Homo sapiens: one gene and its partner. The protein of the gene in region 2 interacts with the protein of the main gene of each other region in a biochemical or structural test. Each region holds a gene or a part of one and is shown on either strand. Other genes may lie near its edges.

Region 1 (7,025 bases), on a different chromosome or scaffold from region 2:
ATTTATTCCTTTTAATAATATAAAATTCTGCAAAGATTCTGCTCTACATTTCACTATACCAAGTTCTATTACTTACAACGGCTGGGTGGGCTGATGTCCATTACGGTCAAAGTAGGATTGTCTATGTCACTTCCCCTTCTTCTTATTCGACTATCATCATACTCTGGGGTAAAGATACTGCTTCCACTACTAGTGCTTAAGGAATGATCAGTAGGACTGAAACTCACAGGAGACCGTAAGCTGGTCCCCTGGGTCCTTCTAGCTCTTGGAAAAGTTTTACGACCTAAAAAATGAAAAGAGAATGACCTTATACCTTTTATTAATATGTTATACTTTTAAAGTATTTAAAATTTGTAATGTAGAGAATAGAAATTTGTCCTGTGACTAGGCTAAGAAACTCAAATAGGAATGATTGGGTGGGAAAAAATAAACAGGATCTGAATACAAATTCAAATAATCTCTTATGATAAAACATGTATGAGTGTGCACACAGAAACATACACACACACATCTTAAAAAGGAACCTCCTCACTTCTGGATAAAAAGGAGGAAAAAAATTTACTCTCATTTCCAATAATGATTTTAAAATCTAAAACAAAGATGCAGAAGTTCACAGGTAGTAATTTTTTTCTTTTCTTTTTGAGATGGAGTTTCACTCTTGTTGCCCAGGCTGGAGTGCAGTGGTACAATCTCGGCTCACTGCAACCTCCGCCTCCAGGGTTCAAGCGATTCTCCTGTCTCAGCCTCCCAAGTAGCTGGGATTACAGGCGCCCACCACCATGCCCAGCTAATTTTTTGTATTTTTAGTAGAGACGGGGTTTCATCACGTTGGCCAGGCTGGTCTCATACTCCTGACCTCAGGTGATCCACCCGCCTCGGCCTCCCAAAGTGCTGGGATTACAGGCATGAGCCACCGCACCTGGCCAGTAATTTTTTTTCTTAAAGGGATGATGTAAGTATCAATCTCATCATCAAAGAGTAATTTTCTAATATCATTTAAAAGTTACTCCTTTTGGATGGGTGCAGTGGCTCATGCCTGTAATCCCAGCACTTTGGGAGGCCAAGGCAGGCAGATCACTTGAGCCCAGGAGTTCGAGACCAGCCTGGGCAACATGGCAAAACCCCATCTCTACTAAAAATACAAAAATTAGGCCGGGCACGGTGGCTCACGCCTGTAATCCTAGCACTTTGGGAGGCCAAGGCAAGTGGATCACTGGAGATCAGGAGTTTTGAGACCAGCCTGGCCAACATGGCAAAACCCCATCTCTACTAAAAATACAAAAATTAGCCAGGTGAGAATCGCTTGAACCCAGGAGGTGGAGGGTGCAGTGAGCAGAGATCATGCCACTGCACTCCAGCCTGGGTGACAGAACAGAGTGAGACTCTGTCTCAGGGGAAAAAAAAAAAAGAAAGAAAGAAAATTACTCCTTCTTGGCCAAGTGCAGTGGCTCACACCTGTAATCCCAGCACTTTGGGAGGCTGAGGCAGGAGGACCGCTTGAGCCCAAGACTTCAAGACCAGCCTGGGCAACATGGTGGGACACTGTCTCTACAAAAAAAATTTTTTAATTAGCTGGGTGTGATGGCAAATGCCTGTAATGGCACACACCTGAACTCAGGAAGCCAAGGCAGGAAGATCACTTGAGCCCAGGAATTTAAAGTTACAGTGAGCTAAGATCATGCCACAGCACTCCCGCCTGGGCAACAAAACCTTGTCTCTTAAAACAAAAAATTATTCATTTTCTTTTAAGGGATAACCAAGTCTTATAAGTTGTCATAAAGCCAAAATGCCCATTATACTTTTGTTATAACACAATTCCTCATATTTTTCTAATGGTATTAACACAAATATGAGGTTTTAAAAAATTTTTGTATTTATTTTTGTTGTTGAGATTTTTTAACTATTCTTGTGGTCTAATTGCTAGAAACTTACCATCATTATACTCTTGATGATGATATGAAACATGATACCTTCTTGGATATGTTCCTCCTTTTCCAAATTTCTCAAAGATAGGGTTATCATAGTCTGTTAAGACATATAAGATGGTTATCTTTTATTTAAAAAAAAAAGTTAAATATTTCTAATGATGAAAAGCACATTTATAAATCTTTATTTGACTTTTCAAAAATCCCCCCTCTCCCTCCCAGCCAAAACATTATCCAATGACATAAACATTTAAACATTTAGAATTTATAAAGTCTAACCTGAAAATTCCTGATGATTATCTGGGTAGCTCTGAGCCCTAGGCATTCGTGATTTTGGATAGCTCTCTCTATAAAGAAAAAACATCACATTAAGTTTACAGAAAGAACGTAAGACATTAAAAAGAAAATCTTTGAGCAATATCTATATCTATCTGTGCCTCTCTGTATGTGTTTGTGTAAAGGAGCTCACTTTGAAAGGTTAGCATACCTAAAAAAGAAAAACTACACTTACTTGGTACATGTAGGCAAAGAGCATGACTTAAAATTAACCTTACAGTACAGTGGAAGAATGACGTATTTTGGAATCATTAGGTGTTTCTAAGCACTGTGTTTCAATCCAAGCTCTGCCACTTAACTATGTAACCTTGGCAAATCACCCTTCTGCATCAACAAAAAAGATAATTTCCAACTATTCAAGTGTACATAAGTAAGGTATCCAGGATAGTGTTTTGCAAATGGTAAGTACTCAAATATATAGCTTTCTCGTTACTACTTCCCTGAATTTCTTAAATGTCTACCTTAAGATAGACATTGACACAGACAGAAATTTCATATACATGGATAAAAGAAACTTAAATGTGCATTCCCACGCAATATTAGTTATTTTTTTCAGAATTTGCTTTCATAAAGCAATTCCAGAGAGGATTACCAAGAATACTGTCCTATTGAGACCAGGAGGGGGAGCACGTGTAACAAAAAATTCACATTTTGCAACTTTATCCTGCTCATATTCCTGAACAGCTTTTTCACAAAAGTACTTAAATTTTTGCCTACATGTACCAATGTGACACAGTGGGCTACAATTTCCAAGAATTTAAATTATTTCTAATCTGGTGCCAGAATGAACATAATCCTGAACAGGTGAAATAACTCAGGAAATTTCCAAAACCAAACATATTAATGTAAAAGTTGATAGCACTTTTCATAAACACAGTTTTAAAAGTAAATGTACATAAATTCTAAATTTGATTTGCCTTCAAACACACAATTTTGACAAGCAGGAATACTCAAACTATTATAATCAGATTTCCTTTTAACTAACAAAGATACTGAGTCCCATGAGGTAAAGGGATTTATCCACACTGTGCAAAAATTCATCTGCCGTCATCATACACAAGTACCAATTCTATTCCTCTGAATGTAGCACAAAAAAGTTACTGATAATTCAACATTCTATCTGTATGAATATTTACTCATATCTATTAAAAAAGAAAACTACAGTAAGCTGAGCATGGTGGCTCATGTGTGTAATCCCAGCGCTTTAGGAGACCAAGGCAGGAGGTTCGCTTGAGCCCAGGAGTTCAAGATCAGCCTGGGTAACAAAGTGAGACCCCCATCTCTACAAATAATACAAACAAAATAGCCAGATGTGGTATTAATAGCAAATGCCTTTGGTCCTAGTTCCTCGGGGGTCAGAGGTGGGAGGACTGATGGAGCCAAGGAGGTCAAGGCTGCAGTAAGCCGCATTCACGCCACTGCGCTCCAGCCTGGGTGACAGCAAAACTCTGTCTCAAATAAACAAATAAACCCTCCAAAAACTACGATAAACATTACCCATCCAAAGGACTATCAAGTGATGGACAACTTCCTGAGCCAGAATTTTCAGGGCTGCTTAAAGATAATGGATCCAGCATCTAGGAAAAAAAGGAGTTCCACCATGATTCAATTTGATATAACCAAAAGTTGCTTATTAAAAAAACCTGCCTTAATTAGACATACTTCATGTAACATAAAATTCACCCATTTAAAGTATACAAGTCAAGGCTTTTAGAATACTGAGAGTTGTGCAACCCTCACTCACAATTTTAGAACAATTCCATACTCAATAGTGGTCACTCTCCAGAGTTACTCATTTTCAAATGTCCCTTGTAAGCAAGCCACGACTTCAAAATTTCCTAAGAGAAAAATATTCTTTCTCTATAGACTATTGACTAAATAATTAAAAGCTACAATATTTCACACTATTTTGCTTACTGAAAACTGAACAATGGCCCCACCCAAACTGAGACTAATGACACTATGACTATTACATTATTAGAAAATGTAAACTACTATAATAGTGTGAACATATAATGCGATGCAATGCAATGTTAAGGGAATAACAGCAACTCCATGAAAACATTTTAATACTATAAAATTGAAGTATTTTTTAAATGTTTCAGAAAGTTCACAAACCTCAGTTTCACAAAGGTAAATATTTGTAGTTTCATTCTATCTTTCAAATGTTTAAAAAAAAAATCTGGCTGTTAAATTACAAAGCAAATGCATTATCATTCACTCACTCTCATTCATTCACTTATTGAGCAATATAAAACCAGCTGTATTCCAGCTTTCTTTATACAGGCACATGTAAATTAATGGGCATTTTCCTATATTTTTTCTATTTTGTTCAGTTAAGAAGATATGTAATTAGAGAAGAGATAATACACACACACACCCAGTTACGTGCCAAATCACACTGACCCTGACAACATCTCTTTAAATTAAATTTAAAAAATCAAACTTTTGCTTACTTGGTCCATGCTCTCTGGAATGAACTCTCCTTCACTGTTGATACTAGTGAATGACCCATTCCGGGCAACCTGGTGTAATTCATCTGGAATGTAACCTGGGGGAGGAGAACTTCTATCTCTACTAGTAGGACCTCAAGGAAGAAAAATAATGTAATTTATAATTATAGGCAAGGGAATCAAGTTTTGTTTTAAATAGGCTATATTTCTGAATTATATCATTAATAATTTCAGCAAAAGAAAATTCAATTTTTATTAAAACTTATCAGAACATTCATTTGTAAATCTTCAAATGGCTTTATAACCTTTGTAAATTCCCACCCTATCATAATTATTAACCTCACCATAATATTCATTTATACTCACTAGGTAGGATGGTATTCTGACTGCTGATAGGATGATAATACAATATAGATTTCTGGCATTAAGACAGTTTATTTAAGTAATCACATTTCTTATGAGACAATAACCCACTCTATTTTACTTGGTTCTGTGGAAATGATGCTATATTTATTAGTACAGTGTCTCACCTTTCCTCATAGTTTTTTGAAATTAAACTATGTGAGCATTTAAGTTCTGGTCCAATTTAAAGCAAAAAACATTTTAGCCTTATGTAAAGGAGTCATTGTGAGTATATGCAAGCATTTGTTAGTGAGACAGGGAGGAAAAAGAAAGCAAAATTATTACCAAGACATGTGCATAAAAGAGAGTACTGTCTACACTTGTCTGTAAAATGATTAGGAGCTCAATTTGAGTCAGGATTGATTTAGGCTTCATAACAACTGTAGCCACAATAATACTGGTCCCTAATATTTTTATTCCTTCCATATACCCGTGCTTACAAAAGATCAATATAGTCAATTACTAAAAGGAGATAGGACCAAAAAAAAAAAAAAGCTATGAAAATTTTGTCTCCTTATTTGACAACCCTTTTTCACAGTAATGCGTATGCCAACGCACTCTTGGTTGAGACCTGTTTATCAGCATACACTCCTAACCTAAAGGAGTTTTTCCTCCATCTCCCTTTTATAAAAACAATTAAAAAGAATAACTGCCAACATATAAGAAAAATAGATAATGGTCATATCTAGCAAAGCCATTCCAAGTTTAAAGCAGTGCCAATAAAAGACCACTAATTCTATACTTTATGATTTCCAATTTCTTCTTATGCTGGCACTGACGTCAAACAAGAATATTTATTAGAATAAGACTGAGGTATTCAGTGTAATTTTAATTCAAAATATATTTAAAATGTCAATTTAACTAGTACATTTAGCTTGTTTTGTCTAATGCAACTAAAGTGAATTAGAGCTGGGCACTGTGGCTCACGCCTGTAATCCCAGCACTCTGGGAGGCCAAGGTGGGTGGATCACATGAGGTCAGGAGTTCGAGACCAATCTGGCTAACAGGCTGAAACCCCATCTCTACTAAAAATATAAAAATTAGCCAGGCATGGTGGCGGGCGCCTGTAATCTCAGTTATTCAGGAGGCTGAGGCAGGAGAATCACTTGAACCCAGGAGGCAGCGGTTACAGTTAGCTGAGACCGCGCCACTGTACTCCAGCCTGGGTGACGGAGTGAGACTCTGTCTCAAAAAATAAATAAAATAAAGTGAATTAGCAATTTTTTAAAAAATGACAAGTACCGTAATGTGATAAGAAATGGGGATAAAGAAAGAAATGTACAATGAACATCTGAGCTTTGTACAATGTACAAAATGTATAAATGTACAATAAGCTTTCTAGTTTGAAAAGTAAAATGTACAAGTGTTCTCTCAATTTAATGCTACAACAATCCCATGATTTAAAGATGAAGACACATTTACTGGTCTCAGGTTCATCAGAGAGCTGGAATTTGAATTTGGGTGTTTCAAATGTTCTTTCACCAAATTTTAAAACTATATCGAAATATATCTGAATGCAAAAGACAAGCCATTTGTATTTTGCTTGTGTATCACCTCTGCTGCTCGCATTTCTGCATTCCTGAAACCCAAAGTAGGACTTATTTAAGACAGACACTTCGAAGAGAATGGTCATAAAATAGCTTCTTCTGGGGACCAAAAGAGAACATGAATAATGTCTATTTTTTTGATGGTCCACATGCCAATTCAATTTTTTCTTTGATTATCAACAATCCTCTTCTGTTACCAATCTTTTTTAGATTCCCAACCACATTTGTTTTTCCTCCTCTTTAACTTTTCTCTTTTAAATCCGCCCCTCATACATGTTTTCATGCCATCTTTAATGGCCATACTCACTGCCCTCTCTCAAAGAACATTTATACCAGCGGTTTTTTGAAACAATGTTAATGCT
Region 2 (7,744 bases):
AGGACATCATGAGGTGATTTCATTGTTGTAGGAACATCATGGTGTATCCTCACACAAACCCAGACTGTACATACAGCCTGCTACACACCTAGGCTAGCAGGTATTGTCTGTACTGCCTACTGCTCTGAGGCTATAAACCTGCACCGCGTGTTACTGTACTGAATACTGTAGGTAACTGTAAAACAATGGTAAGTATTTGTGTATCTAAATGTACCTAAACACAGAAAAAGTACAGTTAAAAAATGATATAATCATACAGGGCCACTGTCATGTATCTGGTCTTTCGCTGACCAAAATGTCGTTATGCAGTGCATGACTGTAATTATCATCAATATCTGTTTTTTTAATTCTATTTTGATTTTTCCTTTCCCATGTAACTGTTAATTGCTACAAACTAACATTTTCATTCCATACTTAATTCAGATGGAAGGCAGCAGAAGGACAGGGGCAGTTAGGAGGAAAATTCTGCCAGACATTCATACTAAAACTAAGGGCTTACTATGTGTTAGACACTGGGGCTACAAAAACTGAAAGATGCACTATTCTTAAAGACTTCACAATGGACAGTGAATAAAGAGAAACAAATTTTACTTACAAGATGACAAGTAATACAGAAACTTATCCCTCAAGGACAGGCATTCAACAGTGGCAGAAAACTGCATCAAACAATGCGCTAACATTTCCCTAACACTATTTTCAGGTTGCAGTGATTCCCAACCAGGCTCTTTGGAACACTATAACCACTAAAATGGGAGTGTTCAAACAGAGCAACTACTACCACAACACAAGTGAACTGTGTATCCTGGCAATCCAAAGTAAGTGCAAATATTTTGTGTCTGTGTAAAATACTAGTAAGTATTTGTCAGTCATTATGAAGAATCTGTTTAGCTTGTTTTGTTTAGATGCTTAGCATTTACTTATATCCCTTTTTCTATGTTTATGTTTGCTGATTTCCCCACTGGATAACTATCGGTGGGAAGTAGAGTGAGCCTGCCTTCTATCTTAAAAGCCAAAAAGGCTAAATACCGTCTCAACCTCCCTCGCGCTAGGGGTGCAGGCAGTGACCTAAGTTTAGCCAATCCAAGACACTCACTGAGGACTTTGAATAAAAGCCAGTATCACAAAGAAGAATGGTTGAGAGAATCACTCTCCAGCAACAGTGAGTTTCCCAAGGAGCAGCAGCAGCAGCAGCACCAGGGTCCAGTGTCTATGGTGTTCGTGGTACCTACTGCAGAATCCAATATTATCAGGCGACAGAAGTGATATACACCCCAGATCCCAGCCCCAGCTACTTTTGCAGTGCAATCCTAACTTGGTTCAGCCGATGCCCAGTCAAGTCTTGGCAGACTTTAAAGCAACACTGAGAACTCCCCCAAAACTCTTTCATTAAATTCCTTTTTTGCTTAAATCCCCAGTTACTGCAAACAGGAAAAATGAATGAGACTAATGAAATAGTATGGTAAATCAACAAGCATCCCACCCACAAAGGGTTTGTGTAGCTTATTTTGGAAATGCACAATTCCGTGTGTCACAAGACTCAACTTCAGCTCTAATGATTCAATTGCCAATTTGTCACCATTTATTCATTCCAAAACTTTTCTGTTCCAAGAACTATCTTGAAAGGAACGAATTGTTTTCAACCACACAGTTTACAAAAACTTCAAGATGCTGCTCTCTCCCGAACAGATGTTTTCGCTGTTATCATTACTTCAGAAAGCAACAGACAAAATTATTATTTGGTAGCTCTAAAATGCAAAGTCATATTCCTGAATTATGAATCAAATGAGAACAAAGTAAGAACAATGGTCAAATTACAGATACGAGTTTTGCACTTACCGTCCCACCTCCACCCACCTAAATCTCAGACTGGCAGGTCTGAAAAGCGGCCATGCACAAAATCATCGCACTCATCTCAAAATAGAACTCTTCTTCCTCGCACACAGAAGCTCAATAATATTTGTTGACTGAATGCAGTTCCTATTATTCATGTATGTTACACATTTCCATAAATTGCTTTCACATAGCACTTTACACCGGCACAGCGCGTCCAGGCTTCCAAAACACCTTCACGTGAATCCCTGCATCTAGAATGGTGGTTAAGAGTTAGACATGCCTGCACAGCCATTAAATGGCACAGCACACGGGGGACCCGTGTCTGATGCTCCCACAGCACATTAATTGCCCCTCTATTTCAGCCCTTCTGGTACACTGTAATTCTCTCTCTCACTTGATCAGCTCTTTGAGGAGGTCCCGTTCCTCTTCGTATCCCCAGGCCACACACAACCCAGACCACAGAGGTGCACCGTAGACATCAAGATTCTTCCACCTGCTGCAAGCCTGATGCTTTACCGGCGGGGCCTCTGCAGGGGAGCCTGATTTATACTCATCCCAGCTCCCACCCAGCCCCACGCCCGCCACGTGTGATTTCCACAGCCGCACCAAGGAAGACTGTCCAGCACACAGACTTTTCGTCTCCCAGCAAAATTATCCCCGGCACAACGCTTCCCCCTCAAGTCTGCCCAATGGCTTTCCCATTTCCACCGCAGCCCAGGTTGGGGGGCAGTGGCTGAGCCTGGGCCCCCTCCCAGCCCCGCTGCGGCAACCTAGGGGGGTGTCCGGGCGGGGCCTGTCAGCAGCGACCCGCCCCCGGGCACACGCGCGTCAGGGGCAGCACCGCCAAGCTGCCTGTGCAGCCCCATCCAGCAGGAGTCCCGCGGCTGCCGGCCGCCCGACGCCCCCCCCTCCCCAGCACCCCACACAGCTCGCGACTCAGGTAGGCGAGGGCGCTCCTTACGCACCCGAGAAGGCAGCGGTCGCAGACGACGCCACGACTCCCCTTGCACACCGTGTACGCCAAGGGATCCGAGCGGAAGAGTAGCTCTCCGGGGCGCAGCGGGGTCACGGCGCGCAGCCCGTTTCCCCTCTTGGCGGTTGCGAACTTTTCCACCTTCAGCGGCTCCATCCTCCCGCAGCTCCGGCACCTCAGACGGCTACCCGCGTCCAGCAGCGGGCGTCTCACGGGCTGCCGGGACCCGCGCGCCTGCGCCCTGCGCGCACACGTACGCCCGAGGGGCGGGGCGGGCGCGGTGGGGCAAGAGCATGCGCAGATGGAGTCTGGAGGGACGGCTGGAGTGGAGTGTGTGGGACCTGAAGGTGGTCGTAAGGCTCCGCGTGCGGCTCGTGCCCATGGCGACTGCGCAGAAGACAGGCGGGGTTTTTTTTCTCCCTCTAACATTGTATTACGATCATTTTAACGCATACGGAACAGTTGAAAACAGTGCAGTGAACACCTATATACCTCCGCCTAAATCAGACAACCTAGCACTTTGCCATTTCTGCTCGTCACTCTCTCCCCACCTGTAGCTATGTATACACGTATTGTCGTTAAACTATTTCAAAGTTGCAGGCATCATGACATCACAACTAGTACTTTGCACTGTAACTTTTTTTTGTTTTAGGACGGAGTCTTGCTCTGTCGCCCAGGCTGGAGTGCAGTGGCGAGATCTCGGCTCACTGCAACCTCTGACCTCCGGGTTCAAGCGATTCTCCTGCCTCAGCCTCCATAGTAGCTGGGACTACAGGCATGTGCAATCCTCCCGCCTGGGCCTCCTGACTAGATGGGACTATAGGCTCACGCCACCATGCCTGGCTAATGCTTTTTACTTTCCTCCAGAGACAGTCTACCTATGTCGCCCAGGCTAGTCGCAAACTCCTGGCCTCAAGTGAACCTGAACCTCCTGCCTCGACCTCTCGAATTGCTGGAATTACAGGTGTGAGCCACCACACCCAGCTTAATTTTCTTTTTTGTTTTTGGGGTTTGTTTTGTTTTGTTTTGTTTTTTGAGACGGAGTCTCATTCTCGCCCAGGCTGGAATGCAGTGGTACGATATTGGCTCACTGCAACCTCTGCCTCCCGGGTTCAAGCGATTCTCCTGCCTCAGCCTCTTGAGTAGCTGGGACTACAGGCGCCTGCCACCACGCCCGGCTAATTTTTGTATTTTTAGTAGAGACGAGGTTTCACCGTGTTAGCCAGGATGGTCTCGATCTAACCTTGTGATCCGCCCGCCTCGGCCTCTCAAAGTGCTGGGATTACAGGCGTGAGCCACCGCGCCCAGCCCACCCGGCCTAAATTTCTTAGTTTGGACAAACGTGCCATGGTAATGCAAAATGTCATTATTAAGGGCAGCTGGATGGAAGGTGTAGGAGTACACTATAGTGCCTTTCAATTTTTCTGTGTATCTAAAGTCATTTCAAAAGTAAACATTTATTTTAAAACATGAAGGTGGTTATGCTTCCATGAGTGTAAAGTACAAAAGGCAGGCTCGTGGTGCTGTCAGAAGTCAGAACACTGGTTTCAGGGCTGGGGGTGTTGGGAGGGGCTGGGCATGGTTGGCTTTGTGATCTGGGGGCTGGTGTGTTCCATCTGTGAATATCTTTTAAGCTGTGCACTTACCAGGGATGTAAGTCATATCTTAATAAATTTTCATAAGTTTGACAAAAAATAAAATGAGGATGGGAAGCTTGTTTGGGTTGTGGGGCCTCGGGTGCTTATCCAGCCATGAGCTGTGTCCCAGATGCTTCTAGAAGCCTGGAGGGAGCTGAGAACATTCCAAGTCGAGGTGGCAGAGCCAAGGCCCTGAGGTGGGAGCGCAATGCTGCACATCCCCAGCTGTGAATGGGGTGTCCTGGTCAGAAGCAGTGCTGTGTGCACTGCAGGGCCGGCAAATCCACGTCCACATTGTGGCTTGGTGCAGTGAAAGCCAATCTCAGCCCCCTCCACAGTGTGATTAGCCTGCCAGCAGGTGGCCAGCTGGTCCTCCTGGGAAATGGTGCCAACCCAGAGACTGGGTGCAAGTGTCTCATCCACGGAGGGGCGCTCAGCAGTGGTGTCAGCCTGGTGAGCCTCGGTAAGGGCACGTGCAGGATGCTGAGCCTCTTCCGTTCCCATGCCCGTCTCAAGGCCACTTGCTCCGTGGGCCCATCCAGCAAGCATGGTGGCCAGGAAAGAAGCCGGCTCCATTCACAGGGCGTGCTGTTTTGCTCACCTCAGGACCAAGAGCATCCTCCATAGTGATTCTCTTTGGTGGGAGCACTAGAAACATGAACCACAGATACCTTCAGCGTCTGAGCCGCTGAGGCGAGGGCTGCAGGACACCCTGCTGTCGGGAAACCCTGCACTGGCGGCTGGAAGGCATGTGGTGGTGGCGCCTGCTGTGGCTGCAGCAGTTGCTGCGAGGCTTCGGGATCTCGCCGGCCCCTGCGAGGTGAATTGTGACAGTGCAGAGCTCCGTGGTACCAGGGCCCCCTGCATGGCCATGCTGACTGCAGCTGGGAGCCCACCACACCTCTGGTTCCCCGCTCTTCCCAGGGCTGGGGTCTAGGCCAGGCCCCTCTTGGCCTGCGAATTGTGCCCTGGGAGGGGGACACTGTTCCACAGGTTGGGACCAAGGACCCAGGGCATGCTACTGGCTGGCTGGGCTGCAGGGATGCCATGCTCACCTTTCTCTCTCATGGCCTTGACGGGACCGGCTTCCTCATTGAACAGCATTTTCCAAGGTGTCTGGGATTGCTGGTGGGGTGCCACCCTGGCTCCTTCTAGGCATGCCCGTCATTGGCCACCAAGGGGGCCAGATGCAGGTGCCCATGCTGCTGTGGGGGCATCTCCCAACTTCCCTCTTAGTCCTGATGGGCCTAGGCAGGGCCTGATATGGGGGTCCCCATGGGCTTCCGGGGCTAAGCCTGCCCCATGGTCCCAGGGCTGTCCAGGACACATTCAGAAGGGACATGAGCTCAGCAGCTCTGTTTGAAATTATTATGGAACCAAGGGCCCCCCACATCCAAGTCCACTGGGAGTCGGGACATGGAGTTCCGCTGCAGGTACCTCCAGGAACCCCGAGGTCCTCCTTGAGCCAAGGCCAGGCTGGGCACACCATAAGTCCTGGGTCCCCCAGAGAATGGCCTGCTGCCCTGGGCTCCCCAGAAGCCCCCTCACGCCCCTGGGCCTTGGCCACATGGAAGCCCCACCAGGACAGGTGTGAGAGGACAAGGAACCCATGGTGGGGAAGCAGACCAAATGGGCCGCTGGAACCAGGCTGGTGGGCCAGGGGGCACCTGCCCATCCCCCTTGCAGAGGGCCTTCCTGCCACGTGAAGCCAGCACAGCCCTGGCTGCTGAGGACCCTTGCCTGGGTTTGGCTGAAAGAAAAACAGACGTGATCAGGCAGCACCTCCAGTGGGCCCAAAGAGTCCTTTCTGGGCCGGGCCCCACCTGCCTGGGTCTCCGGAGTCCTCAGGGTCTCTCGGTGGCCCCTGGGGTCTGACACTGAGGACACACCTGCAGGCTGCTGATCCCAGAGGGAGGGGTGTGTGTCACCTGGGGTAGGGAAGCTGTCGGGGCACAGCAGGTGGCTCCTGGGACTGCCCCCCAGGATTCAGGCTGGCTGGGGGCTTCCTGCCCCATGCCCTCATCCCAGGGCTGTTGGGCCTGGTATATGATCCCCAGTCAGAACTCAGGTGGGAGGGGCCTTGGCTGTCACCCAGCCCCCTTGCTACCTCACTTGGGGACCTGTCTCTACCATGAGTAAGAGGGCCCAGATACGGGGCCCCCTCTGCCCTCCTGGGCTGCCCGGTCCATGCCAGGACTGACCATTCCCACACCTGGCTGAACTCTTGGCTCTGGCTCTGGGCCAGGGGTCCCACCTGTGCCCTTGCCCTGAAAGCTCTGGGGGTCAGGGACACCGACTCCCTTGTCTCCCTGGCTCAAGGCTCGTTGTCCTGGCACCCTTGGAGGGATGTTCAGGAGTGAGGGGCCTCTGCTGCTCTCTGAGGCTGTCAGTGCTTGCAGGGAGGGGTGGGGGGGGTCCCACAAATGGGTCTGGCTCCTCCAGTGCCGTCAAGGGCCCTGTTGGGGGGGGGCGGGACACCGTGGAAAGTGGGAGGGGGCTTGTTGGAGAGGTCTTGCCCACATCCCCCTCCTGCGTGCACAGCATGTGCAGTGCACATGCACTGAGCACCTGCCCTGAGGACCGGGGGCCTATTGTCTTTCTTAGAGTCCAGGAGGAAAAGGAGGAAGAAAAGGCACAAGAGGAAGGCCCAGGTAGTAGGCTTGGGGGTCCCGGGCGCTCCCCCACTATTGACTGCCCCAGAGGGTGACTCAGGAGGGGGCCTGGTATGGAAGCCCATCTGGGGGTGGCAGGTCCCCATTCTTCCTTGTTAGCTTCCTCGTAGAGGCCCAAGGGTGCCCGAGAGCTGCGTCTTCATCCAGGGCCTAGGTATGGGAGAACCAGCCCCCAAAACTGCCCATGGGCCAGACCTGGATGTCTTCATGAGGCCCTCTAGGGATAGGGTGGGCATCAGGCCAGGAGAGTTCCCTGGGAGGGTCAGAGCCCATACCTCATTGCCACCTCAACCGTCTCCCACTGGGAGGTGCCAGATCCTTTTGTGGCCACCCCAGGGGTCCAGATGTGCATAGGAGGCTGTGGCTGGGGGTGGCCTGGGCAGGGAAGTGCTCACCACACTCCAGACTTTCATCTGGAACATGTCGGGGGTGGGCTTGGTGTCACTGTGCCCTGCCCAGCCCACCCAGCCAGACCTCCCCCTGGGCCAGAGCAGAGGATCATGGGGACAGTGTGAGGAAGCTGCCCTCAGGCCAGTCCGAGTCTGACCCCAGTGCTCCCCAGTGCCATTGGGCACACGTGGACTTACTCCATTAAACCTTAAAGGCAGTGCATGCCATCGGCATCAACA

The links. The genes of interacting proteins can lie anywhere in the genome.
Region 1: the proteins of SMYD3 (region 2) and MAP3K2 are reported together in a solved structure, tested with the Homo sapiens proteins (2 studies listed by BioGRID and IntAct, with this or other methods).

What each region holds. Positions count from the first base shown.
Region 1 is NC_000002.12:127,321,970-127,328,994, forward strand, and holds part of MAP3K2 (mitogen-activated protein kinase kinase kinase 2), read right to left. Parts: intron 4,849-7,025; coding exon 4,718-4,848; intron 3,839-4,717; coding exon 3,759-3,838; intron 2,273-3,758; coding exon 2,205-2,272; intron 2,026-2,204; coding exon 1,933-2,025; intron 284-1,932; coding exon 77-283; intron 1-76. UniProt on the Homo sapiens protein: Component of a protein kinase signal transduction cascade. Regulates the JNK and ERK5 pathways by phosphorylating and activating MAP2K5 and MAP2K7. Plays a role in caveolae kiss-and-run dynamics.
Region 2 is NC_000001.11:246,504,256-246,511,999, forward strand, and holds the start of SMYD3 (histone-lysine N-methyltransferase SMYD3), read right to left. Parts: upstream 3,025-7,744; 5' UTR 2,963-3,024; coding exon 2,799-2,962; intron 1-2,798. UniProt on the Homo sapiens protein: Histone methyltransferase. Specifically methylates 'Lys-4' of histone H3, inducing di- and tri-methylation, but not monomethylation. Also methylates 'Lys-5' of histone H4.